Linked DNA regions of Homo sapiens. The protein of the gene in region 1 interacts with the protein of each later gene in a biochemical or structural test. Each region holds a gene or a part of one and is shown on either strand. Other genes may lie near its edges.

Region 1 (5,430 bases):
CCCTGCACGACCTCATAAGGAGAAGCCAGCTGACAGGCTAAACACTCCCCAGGACAGTTACCTGGGCAAGAAGCACACCTTTAGTGTGTGGCATCATCACATACTCCAGTCTCACTGTTACCACAGCTTTTAGCATCCCTTAACCTACAGCAACCCTGTAAGGATCAGGCAATGGAGGCCCAGAGAGCGTAAGTCACTTGCCCAAGATCACACAGCTAAAAAGTGGTATAGCCAGGACGTGAACTCAGTAATCAGACGCCAGATCTCCTGATGTTAACTACTAGGCCCACTCTACTAGGCCACCTCTCTAACAAGTCAGTTCCCCTCCTCCGATTCCCCTCTGAGATGCTGCAGTTCACCCTTCCTAGATTCCTCCGGGAGATGAAACTTCTCATTACAGGAAAGATCCCAAACCCATTTCAGGGAACGCAGGGACCCAGCCTCCCCATAATCCCATGGGACACCAGCTGTCTACTCCTCCCAGCCCTATGGGACTCAATATTGGCCCTTATTTCCCTCCTTGCCCAGGACCAAGGACTCTGCACCCTGGCTCCCACCCTAGGTACCTTGCTGTAGGGCTGGCTGCAAACAATTTTGACCCGGTCCCAGCGCTTCTCGGCGGCTGCCCGGACCAGCTTGTCAGGCCCAAACATGCGAACGCGGTTGGGGTTTGAGCCACTGCGGCTCTCGGAAGGGGACATGAAAGATGAGGTGACCAGAAGGACCTGGGTGGGAGAAGCCACAGTGCATGAGAACCAGGGCAGGTTGGCTTAGATGAGAGCTTCTAGGGGCTGGGGAAGAGGGCACAGGGCCCACACAGGGGACTGGGAGTCACTAGAATGTAGCTTGGGCCTAGATGTCTCCAGACCCTTTGTTTCTAGGCCTTGAGTCAGTCCTGCCCTGACACAGGCCCCAGAGGGATCTCTTTATCCTCCAGATGTGAGCGACCCTTATCTAAATTCTCCCATGGAGTCTTCCATATCTGGCAATACAGCGGGCTACATGTCCTAAGGAACTTTCCCGGCAGAGAATATTCAGTAAACTGGCACAATATTCAAACACCTTTTGGAAATGCACAGGTGAGTCAGCGGAAAGGCAAGGGGAATTACTAGAGGCTGGAAATGAGAAAACAGAATCCAGAGAGTCAGGCGAGCTGCACTAAGTATTAAGTGATTGTTTCTCAGCTCAAACCTACCCTCTACAACTCATCTCTGTGATCTGGGCCCGCACTTGGCAAACCACCTTTCTGCTTCCCTAGCTGATCGTGACCAGGCTCTGCCAATAGGGGGGGCAAGAGAGAGAGTTTGCAAGGCTGCAGGAGGGAGGAAGGACCAGCTTCTCGTGCATTGCAGATCCTGTGAGCATCACCCCCAGTTAAGCTTCTGCTGCTGCAGTGGTTCCTGCCTGCAGCAGCAGATGAATCCAGTTTGCAGTGTCCCAATACCTCCAGAAACAGCCTCATTCAGCCCCTCTCAGCAGCCGGTGGGGGAGGAAGCCCTCCTCAAACGATCTGAATTTCAGCTCCTGGAGCCCCACCTCCCAGTTTCCAAACATCTACGTTTCAATAATTCCTGCTCCTTTCTTTTGTTCCCCCAACCCTGGGAGTGGTAGCTACTCCCTGCGGTTGCTTCTCCCTCATATCTTAGTCTTCTAGTAACACCTAGTTACTGGTTCTTTCTATCAAATTATCTGTTAAAATAACTGGTGTGGTTTTAATCTCCGGGCAAGGACCCTGACTGACCCGGCAGCACTCATGTTGGTAGTTTGTCATGGTGCTGATCCCAGATAGCAAATAACTTGATTTTATTTATTATTATTATTTTTTTAAGAGACAGGGTCTTTCTCTGTCACCCAGGCTGGAGCACAGTGGTGCGATCATAGCTCACTGCAGCCTCGACCTCTGGGTCTCAAGTGATTCTCCCACCTTGGCCTCTGAGTAGCTGGGTCTAGAGATGCACGACACCACACCTGGCTAATTTTTTATTTTTTGTAGAGGCATGGTCTTGCTATGTTGCCCAGGCTGGTCCTGAACTCCTGGCCTCAAATGATCCTCTCACCTCAGCCTCCCAAAGCTATAGAAGTACAAGTGTAAGCCACCACACCCAGCTAGAACTTGATCTTTAAGGGTTATGCACGTGGTGGTGAAAGAGAACAAGAGAGAAAACCTAGGCTCCAAGCAAGGGAGAGTGGCATCTCAGAGATCCTCACCACACTGCATAGAACTGAGGACTCCCCAAAGGCAACGCCCACACTAGTTACATGAAGGGGAAATAAGCCTGTGGAAAGAGTCCCTGGGAGGCCTGTCTGTCTTGGCCTTAGCTTGGGGGGACACCAAAGAAGAGGTGAAAATTCTTCTCGGGAGAACTCCTCACAAGTCTGTTCTCTCAAGGAATTGAGAGTAGCAATTCATGTTAGCAATCTGCATTGAAAAACCCAAGCTGAGGCCAGGCGCGGTGGCTCACGCCTGTAATCCCAGCACTTTGGGAGGCCAAGGCAGGCGGATCATTTGAGGTTAGGAGTTCAATACCAGCCTGGCCAACATGGTAAAACCCCATCTCTACTAAAAATACAAAATTTAAGCCAGGCATGGTGGCAGACGCCTGTTGTCCCAGCTACTCGGGAGGCTGAGGCACGAGAATTGCTTGAACCCAGGAGGCGGAGGTTGCAGTGAGCTGAGATCGCACCATTGCACTTAAGCCTGGTGGACAAGAGGCCAGGAGTTCAAGACCAGCCTAGCCAACATGGTGAAACACCGTCTTTACTAAAAATACAAAAATTAGCTGGACATGGTGGTAGGCACCTATAATCCCAGCTACTCGAGAGGCTGAGGCACAAGAATCGCTTGAACCCAGGAGTTGGAGGTGATGGTGAGCCGAGATTGTGCCACTGCATTCCAGCCTGGGTGACGGAGCAAGACTCTGCCAAAAAACAAAAAACGAAACAAAAAGACTGGGCACAGTGGCTCACACCTGTAATCCCAGCACTTTGGGAGGCCAAAGCAGGCAAATCACGAGGTCAGGAGATCGAGACCATCCTGGCCAACATAGTGAAACCCCATCTCTACTAAAAATACAAAAAAATTAGCTGGGCATGGTGGCGCGTGCCTGTAGTCCCAGCTACTCGGGAGGCTGAGGCAGGAGAATCACTTGAACCCAGGAGGCGGAGGTTGCAGTGAGCCAAGATTGCGCCACTGCACTCCAGCCTGGCAATAGAGCGAGACTCCGTCTCAAAAAAAAAAAAAAAAAAAAAAAAGATGAATGCAGCCACTTTTGGTTGGGTATATTTTGTTACTGACTTAGTCTCTTTTCTAACTGACATGCTGTGAAATTATAAAATTGGACAATAAAGCCTTTTGCTGAGAAAAACAGAACATAACTATAGCTCTCTTTGTGCACAGCTGATTATGCAAAGGAAACAAGAAAGACAATTATACAGAAGGGAAGTTTTCTTCCTGACCTTGACTATACTTGTTTATAAAAGGCCTGATTTGGAGCTGACAGGGAAGCTGCATTTATCATCTGGTGACTAACATGGGAAAACCCTGTCCTACTAAATACAAAAAAAATAGCCATGCATGGTGGCACAGGCCTGTAATCCGAGCTACTTGGGAGGCTAAGATGGAGAATCGTTTGTACCTGGGAGGCGGAGGTTGCAGTGAACCGAGATTGCACCACTGCACTCCAGCCTGGGCAACAGGAGCAAAATTCCATCTCAAAAAAAAAAAAAAAAAAAAAAAAAAAGGAAGGAGGGAGGGAAGGAGGGGAGGGAGAATGGAAGGAAGGAAGGCTCCTGTGACTTTGGGTTTGTGCCTTTGATGTTTTTGAAGAGTAGAGGTCAGTGATTTTTGTCAGATATCACTTATTGTACAAAGTATCTGATGTTTCCTTGTGATTAATTTAGGTTGCACACTTTGGCCAGAATACCACAGAAGTGATGTGTAATATACAGTTTATTTTGTATATTGACTTCTCATCTTGTGACCTTCACTTACTAAACCTTGTAGTTTGTCTAGATCTCTTGGGATTTTCTGCATAGACAATCATGCCATCTGTGAAAAAAGATAGTTTTCTTTTTTCTTTTTCTCACCTTGTCACACTGACTAGTGCAAAGTTGGGCATGGTGGTGCAAGCCTGTAGTCCCAGCTACTTGAGGGGCTGTGGAAGGAGGATCACTTGAACCCGGGAGGACAAGGCTGCAGTGAGCTGAGATCGTGCCACTGCACTCCAGCCTGGGTGACAAAGTGAGACCTCGTTTCAAAAAAAAAAGAGTAGGCCAGGTACACACAGCAGCTCACATGTGTAATCCTAGCACTTTGGGAGGCCGCAGCAGGTGGATCACCTGACCTCAGGAGTTCAAGACCAGCCTGGGCAACACAGTGAAACCCTATTTCTACAAAAAATATTTAAAAATTAGCCGGGCATGATGGCTCCCACTAGCTACTTGGGGGGCTGAGGCGGGAGGATCACTTGAGCCCAGGAGGCAGAGGTTGCAGTGAGCTGAGATCATGCCACTGTACTCCAACCTGAGCAACAGAGTGAGACCCCCATCTCAAATAAATAAATAAATAAATAAATAAATACATATATACATAAATAAATAATATGGTTAAAAAAAGAGACAGTTTGGTATTGGCATAAAGAAAACTATACATATCAATGGAACAGAGAAGAGAGTACAGAAATAAACCCATACATATGGTTAATTAATTCTCAACAAGGAGTCAAAATGATTCAATGAGAAAAGGCAAGTCTTTTTTTTTTTTTCAAAGTATTTTCAGCCAGGTGCAGTGGCTCAGGTCTGTAATCCCAATACTTTGGGAGGCCAAGGTGGGAGGATCACTTTAAGCTCAGGAGTTCAAGACCAGCCAGGCAATGTAGTGAAACCCCATTTCTACAAAAAATTTTTTAAAAAATTAGCCGGGTATGGCGGCTCACACCTATAGTCCCAGCTACTCAGGAGGCTGAGGCTGGAGAATCCCTTGAGTCTGGGAAGCGGAGGTTGCAGTGAGCCAAGATCATGCCACTGCACTCCAGCCTGGCCAACAGAGTGAGACTCTGTCTTAAAATAAATAAAATAAATAAATAAGCATTGTCAACAAACATATAAAAAAGATACAGAAAAGGGCCGGGTGCGGTGGCTCACACCTGTAATCCCAGCACTTTGGGAGGCTAAGGTGGGCAGATCACAAGGTCAGGAGATCGAGACCATCCTGGCTAACACAGTGAAACCCTGTCTCTACTAAAAATACAAAAAATTAGCCGGGCATGGTGGCACGTGCCTGTAGTCCCAGCTACTCCGGAGGCTGAGGCAGAATGGCGTGAACCCGGGAGGTGGAGCTTGCAGTGAGCCGAGATCGCGCCACTGCACTCCAGCCTGGGCAACAGAGTGAGACTCCATCTCAAAAAAAAAAAAAAAAAAAAAAAAGATACA
Region 2 (4,464 bases), on another chromosome or scaffold:
GTTTGTTTGTTTTGAAACAGGGTCTCATTCTGTCACCCAGGCTGGAGTGAGGTGGTGCAATTATGGCTCACTGCAGCCTGGACCTCCCAGGCTCAGTTAATCCTCCTGCCTCAGCCTCCTGAGTAGCTGGGACTACAGGTGTGCCCATCATGCCCGGCTAAGATTATTCTTTTCAGCTAATGATTCCTGTGTAGAAATACAAGAATGAATTCTAATTTATTATTATTTTTTAACCTGTTATGGAGGACATTACCAGTCATTCATTCACCTTTTACTGTCAAAGTGGTTAACAGGCTTATAAAACTAGAGAAGGGAAGGGTAAGGTTTCATTTTTTTAAAAAAATCATACTTTGTTGAGATTTTATTTTATTTGAACTTCAAGTTTACTACCTAATAATTCCCTTTAATAAATTCATTTTCAGCTGTAATTTTTATGTGAACTGGAAGTGTTCAGAAAACACTAAAATTCTATTTCAGAGAACTAAGTGAAGATAAAATGTATTAACTTGGAATTCACGGGTCTTTTTTCCAAGTCCAGTAATCCCTTCATTATATAGAGGAGAAAACTAAAGTCTAGAGTAATGTGGTTTTCTTCACATTAACTAGAGCTAGTTCTAGGTGAAGCCTGGTCTTCAGTCCAGATCTTTTGATAACCTCTTTGATTCCCTCCCAACTTTTCTCTGTTCCTTCCCTCTACCACACACACAGTCTCTGAACTGAAAGGTTTTTATTTTTATGTGTGTGTTTCTTTAAATTTCTTGAGTAGGCAGATTAAAAAATGTTAAAAGTAGAGGGAAATGCTGAGAAGGTTGTGCAGTATTAGGGTTTTAGACTGTTTATGAACAAAAAAGCAGTATTATGTATTTATAATCCTGCTTTTCCAGACCTTCCAGGACAGTGATGATGTTTTTGCATTTTCAGTCCAGTAAATAGAAGACTAGACATACCTGGACCCCTGAAGAAACGCTTATTTAGCATTAATTGATTCTCTATTAAGTTATGGTTCTGAGAAAGCCAAGATGCCCTAAAGTGAGCAGGTTTAATATGAAAGCTATGGTGGAATACTTGTATTTCAGTCATGAGTTTTTGTTGTGGGTTTTGTTTATTGGTTTTTCTTATAGTTTGTTAAGGCCAATGAGTCTATTTAGAAAATTACAATTCTGTTATTTGATTAACTTGACCCCAGTTGACTAGTGATGGAACCTCCTGTGATAAAGGAGGTGGAGGAAGATGAATATTAGGCCCTGGGAAACCAAGGGCCTAGTAGTTTTTTGTTGTTGTTTGTTTATTTGTTTTGAGACAGAGTTTCACTCTTGTCACCCACTGCAATGGTGCAGTCTCAGCTCACTGCAACCTCTGCCTCCTGGGTTCAAGCGATTCTCCTGTCTCAGCCTCCCAAGTAGCTGGGATTACAGGTGCCTGCCACCATGCCCGGCTAATTTTTGTATTCTTAGTAGAGACAAGGTTTCACAACGTTGGCCAGGCTGGTCTTGAACTCCTGACCTCAGGTGATCTGCCTGCCTTGGCCTCCCAAAGTGCTGGATTACAGGCATGAGCCACCGCGCCTGACTCCCCAATAGTCAATATACTCAAAATGATTAGTATAAAATGCAGCTTTGGAGTTTATGAGATAAAGTCAAAACGCATACTAGATTTCAAGCTCTAGCAAAGTTTTGAGCCAATGTAAACTGATAAAACAAACTAATCTTTAATATTCTAGTCATCCTTATGGGAAAGGATAATAGGGAAGGGGACCAAAAACATGATTTCAAGATATTCTGTGGCCTGACTTTTGGATTAAAGAAAAAAGCTAAAGGAAGGCTTATTAGGAATGCTGAATGGAATGAGTGATTAACTGAATATAATAGTGTAGTAATAATAACAGCTGACATTTACTCAGCACCTACTGTGAGCCAGGCACTGCCTCTTGGCTGCTTTTTCATTTATTATTTAATCTTCACTAAAAGTTTCCTCTCCCTTTTTAAAATTAGCTTTCTAAGGTTGAAAAAAGAATCTTTCACTAAAAATCATAGGATTGGTTTAAACAGGTGAACTTTCTGGTATGTAAGTTATGTCACCAAAGTTGTTTTAGAAAAGTACATACAAAATATCACAGATAAATCAGTAGTCTGTATTGTTAGTGGCATATGTATATGAAAGGTATAAAGCCATGCATAGAAATAACATCAACTGAGGAGTGTGGTGTTTTTGTTTTTTGTTTTCTAGAGAGTGATAGGAGGGGAAGATAAGGGGCATAACATAAGTGGTGGATACATGGGTATTTGGTACTTTTTTTTTTTATATGTCAGATATTTCTCAAATTATTTTTAAAAAGAATAATAGAATGTTACATAATATTTGAGAGCTTTACTATGTAGCAGGTGCCTTTTCTAAGGGCTTTTTACATCTTCACAAACCCTGTAAGGCAGATTCTGTTATCACTGACCTGCAGATGAAATTAAAGCACAGAGATACTAACTGGCACATAGTCACGCTGGTAGTGTGGAACCAGGATTCAGTCTTAGGAAATCTGACTTCAGAGCTTATGCTTTAAGCACTATATTACTATGCTACAGTGCCCCTTTATAAAATAAAACAAAAGTAATGGGTCACTTAAGTATTTTCACCAAAATAAGTTTCAAGGTCTTTATTTGCATTTTTGTTGAGACTATTTAGTCATTCCTCTATTATCAGGTTACTGATATATTTCTTTCCCTTTTACAGATAATGGCATCAGCTGCTAAGGAATTTAAAATGGACAACTTTTCACCTAAAGCTGGCACTAGCAAATTGCAACAGACAGTACCAGCTGATGCATCTCCTGATTCTAAGTGTCCTATATGCTTGGATAGATTTGATAATGTGTCTTACTTAGATCGCTGCTTACATAAGTTCTGTTTTCGCTGTGTACAGGAGTGGTCAAAAAACAAAGCTGAATGCCCACTATGTAAACAGCCCTTTGATTCTATTTTCCATTCTGTGAGGGCAGAAGATGACTTCAAGGAGTATGTCCTAAGGCCTTCGTATAATGGTTCTTTTGTCACCCCTGATCGACGATTTCGCTACCGTACAACTCTGACAAGGGAACGAAATGCTTCTGTGTATTCACCTAGTGGTCCTGTGAACAGAAGAACAACAACTCCACCGGATAGTGGAGTACTGTTTGAAGGGTTAGGCATTTCAACAAGACCTAGAGATGTTGAAATTCCTCAGTTTATGAGACAGATTGCAGTAAGGAGGCCAACTACGGCAGATGAAAGATCTTTGCGGAAAATTCAAGAACAAGATATTATTAATTTTAGACGAACTCTTTATCGTGCTGGTGCTCGAGTTAGAAATATTGAAGATGGTGGCCGCTACAGGGATATTTCAGCTGAATTTTTCCGTAGAAATCCAGCTTGCCTTCACAGATTAGTCCCCTGGTTAAAACGTGAACTTACAGTTCTTTTTGGAGCTCATGGATCTTTAGTGAATATTGTCCAGCATATTATCATGAGTAATGTTACTCGCTATGACTTGGAGAGTCAGGCATTTGTGTCTGATTTAAGACCATTTTTACTTAATCGAACTGAGCATTTTATACATGAATTTATCAGTTTTGCCCGATCTCCTTTTAACATGGCAGCCTTTGACCAGCATGCCAATTATGATTGCCCTGCTCCTTCATACGAAGAAGGCAGCCATTCTGATTCTTCAGTCATAACAATATCTCCAGATGAGGCTGAGACCCAAGAGCTGGATATTAATGTAGCCACTGTTAGTCAGGCACCATGGGATGATGAAACTCCAGGACCATCTTACTCAAGCTCAGAGCAGGTACACGTTACTATGTCTTCTCTTTTAAATACTTCTGACAGTTCAGATGAAGAACTTGTCACAGGAGGAGCCACGTCTCAGATACAAGGAGTACAAACCAATGACGACCTAAATAATGACAGTGATGATTCTTCAGATAATTGTGTCATTGTTGGGTTTGTTAAACCACTAGCTGAGAGGACCCCAGAACTTGTTGAACTGTCCTCTGATTCTGAGGACTTAGGTTCTTATGAGAAAATGGAGACAGTGAAGACACAAGAACAGGAGCAATCTTACAGTTCTGGTGATAGCGATGTTAGTAGATGCTCATCTCCACACTCTGTCCTTGGAAAGGATGAACAAATAAATAAAGGTCATTGTGATTCTAGTACAAGAATCAAATCAAAGAAGGAAGAGAAACGATCTACATCATTGTCATCTCCCAGAAACCTGAACTCATCTGTAAGAGGAGACAGAGTATATTCTCCATATAACCATAGACACAGAAAGAGGGGAAGATCAAGAAGTTCAGATTCACGTTCTCAGAGTAGAAGTGGGCATGATCAGAAGAATCATAGAAAGCATCATGGGAAGAAAAGAATGAAAAGTAAACGATCCAGAAGCAGGGAAAGTAGCAGACCTAGAGGGAGAAGAGACAAAAAGAGATCA

The links. The genes of interacting proteins can lie anywhere in the genome.
Region 2: the proteins of XRCC1 (region 1) and TOPORS interact in far-western blotting, tested with the Homo sapiens proteins (one study listed by BioGRID).

Annotation. Positions count from the first base shown.
Region 1 is NC_000019.10:43,554,080-43,559,509, forward strand, and holds part of XRCC1 (DNA repair protein XRCC1), read right to left. Parts: intron 726-5,430; coding exon 567-725; intron 1-566. UniProt on the Homo sapiens protein: Scaffold protein involved in DNA single-strand break repair by mediating the assembly of DNA break repair protein complexes. Negatively regulates ADP-ribosyltransferase activity of PARP1 during base-excision repair in order to prevent excessive PARP1 activity.
Region 2 is NC_000009.12:32,542,587-32,547,050, reverse strand, and holds part of TOPORS (E3 ubiquitin-protein ligase Topors), read left to right. Parts: intron 1-2,724; coding exon 2,725-4,464. UniProt on the Homo sapiens protein: Functions as an E3 ubiquitin-protein ligase and as an E3 SUMO1-protein ligase. Probable tumor suppressor involved in cell growth, cell proliferation and apoptosis that regulates p53/TP53 stability through ubiquitin-dependent degradation.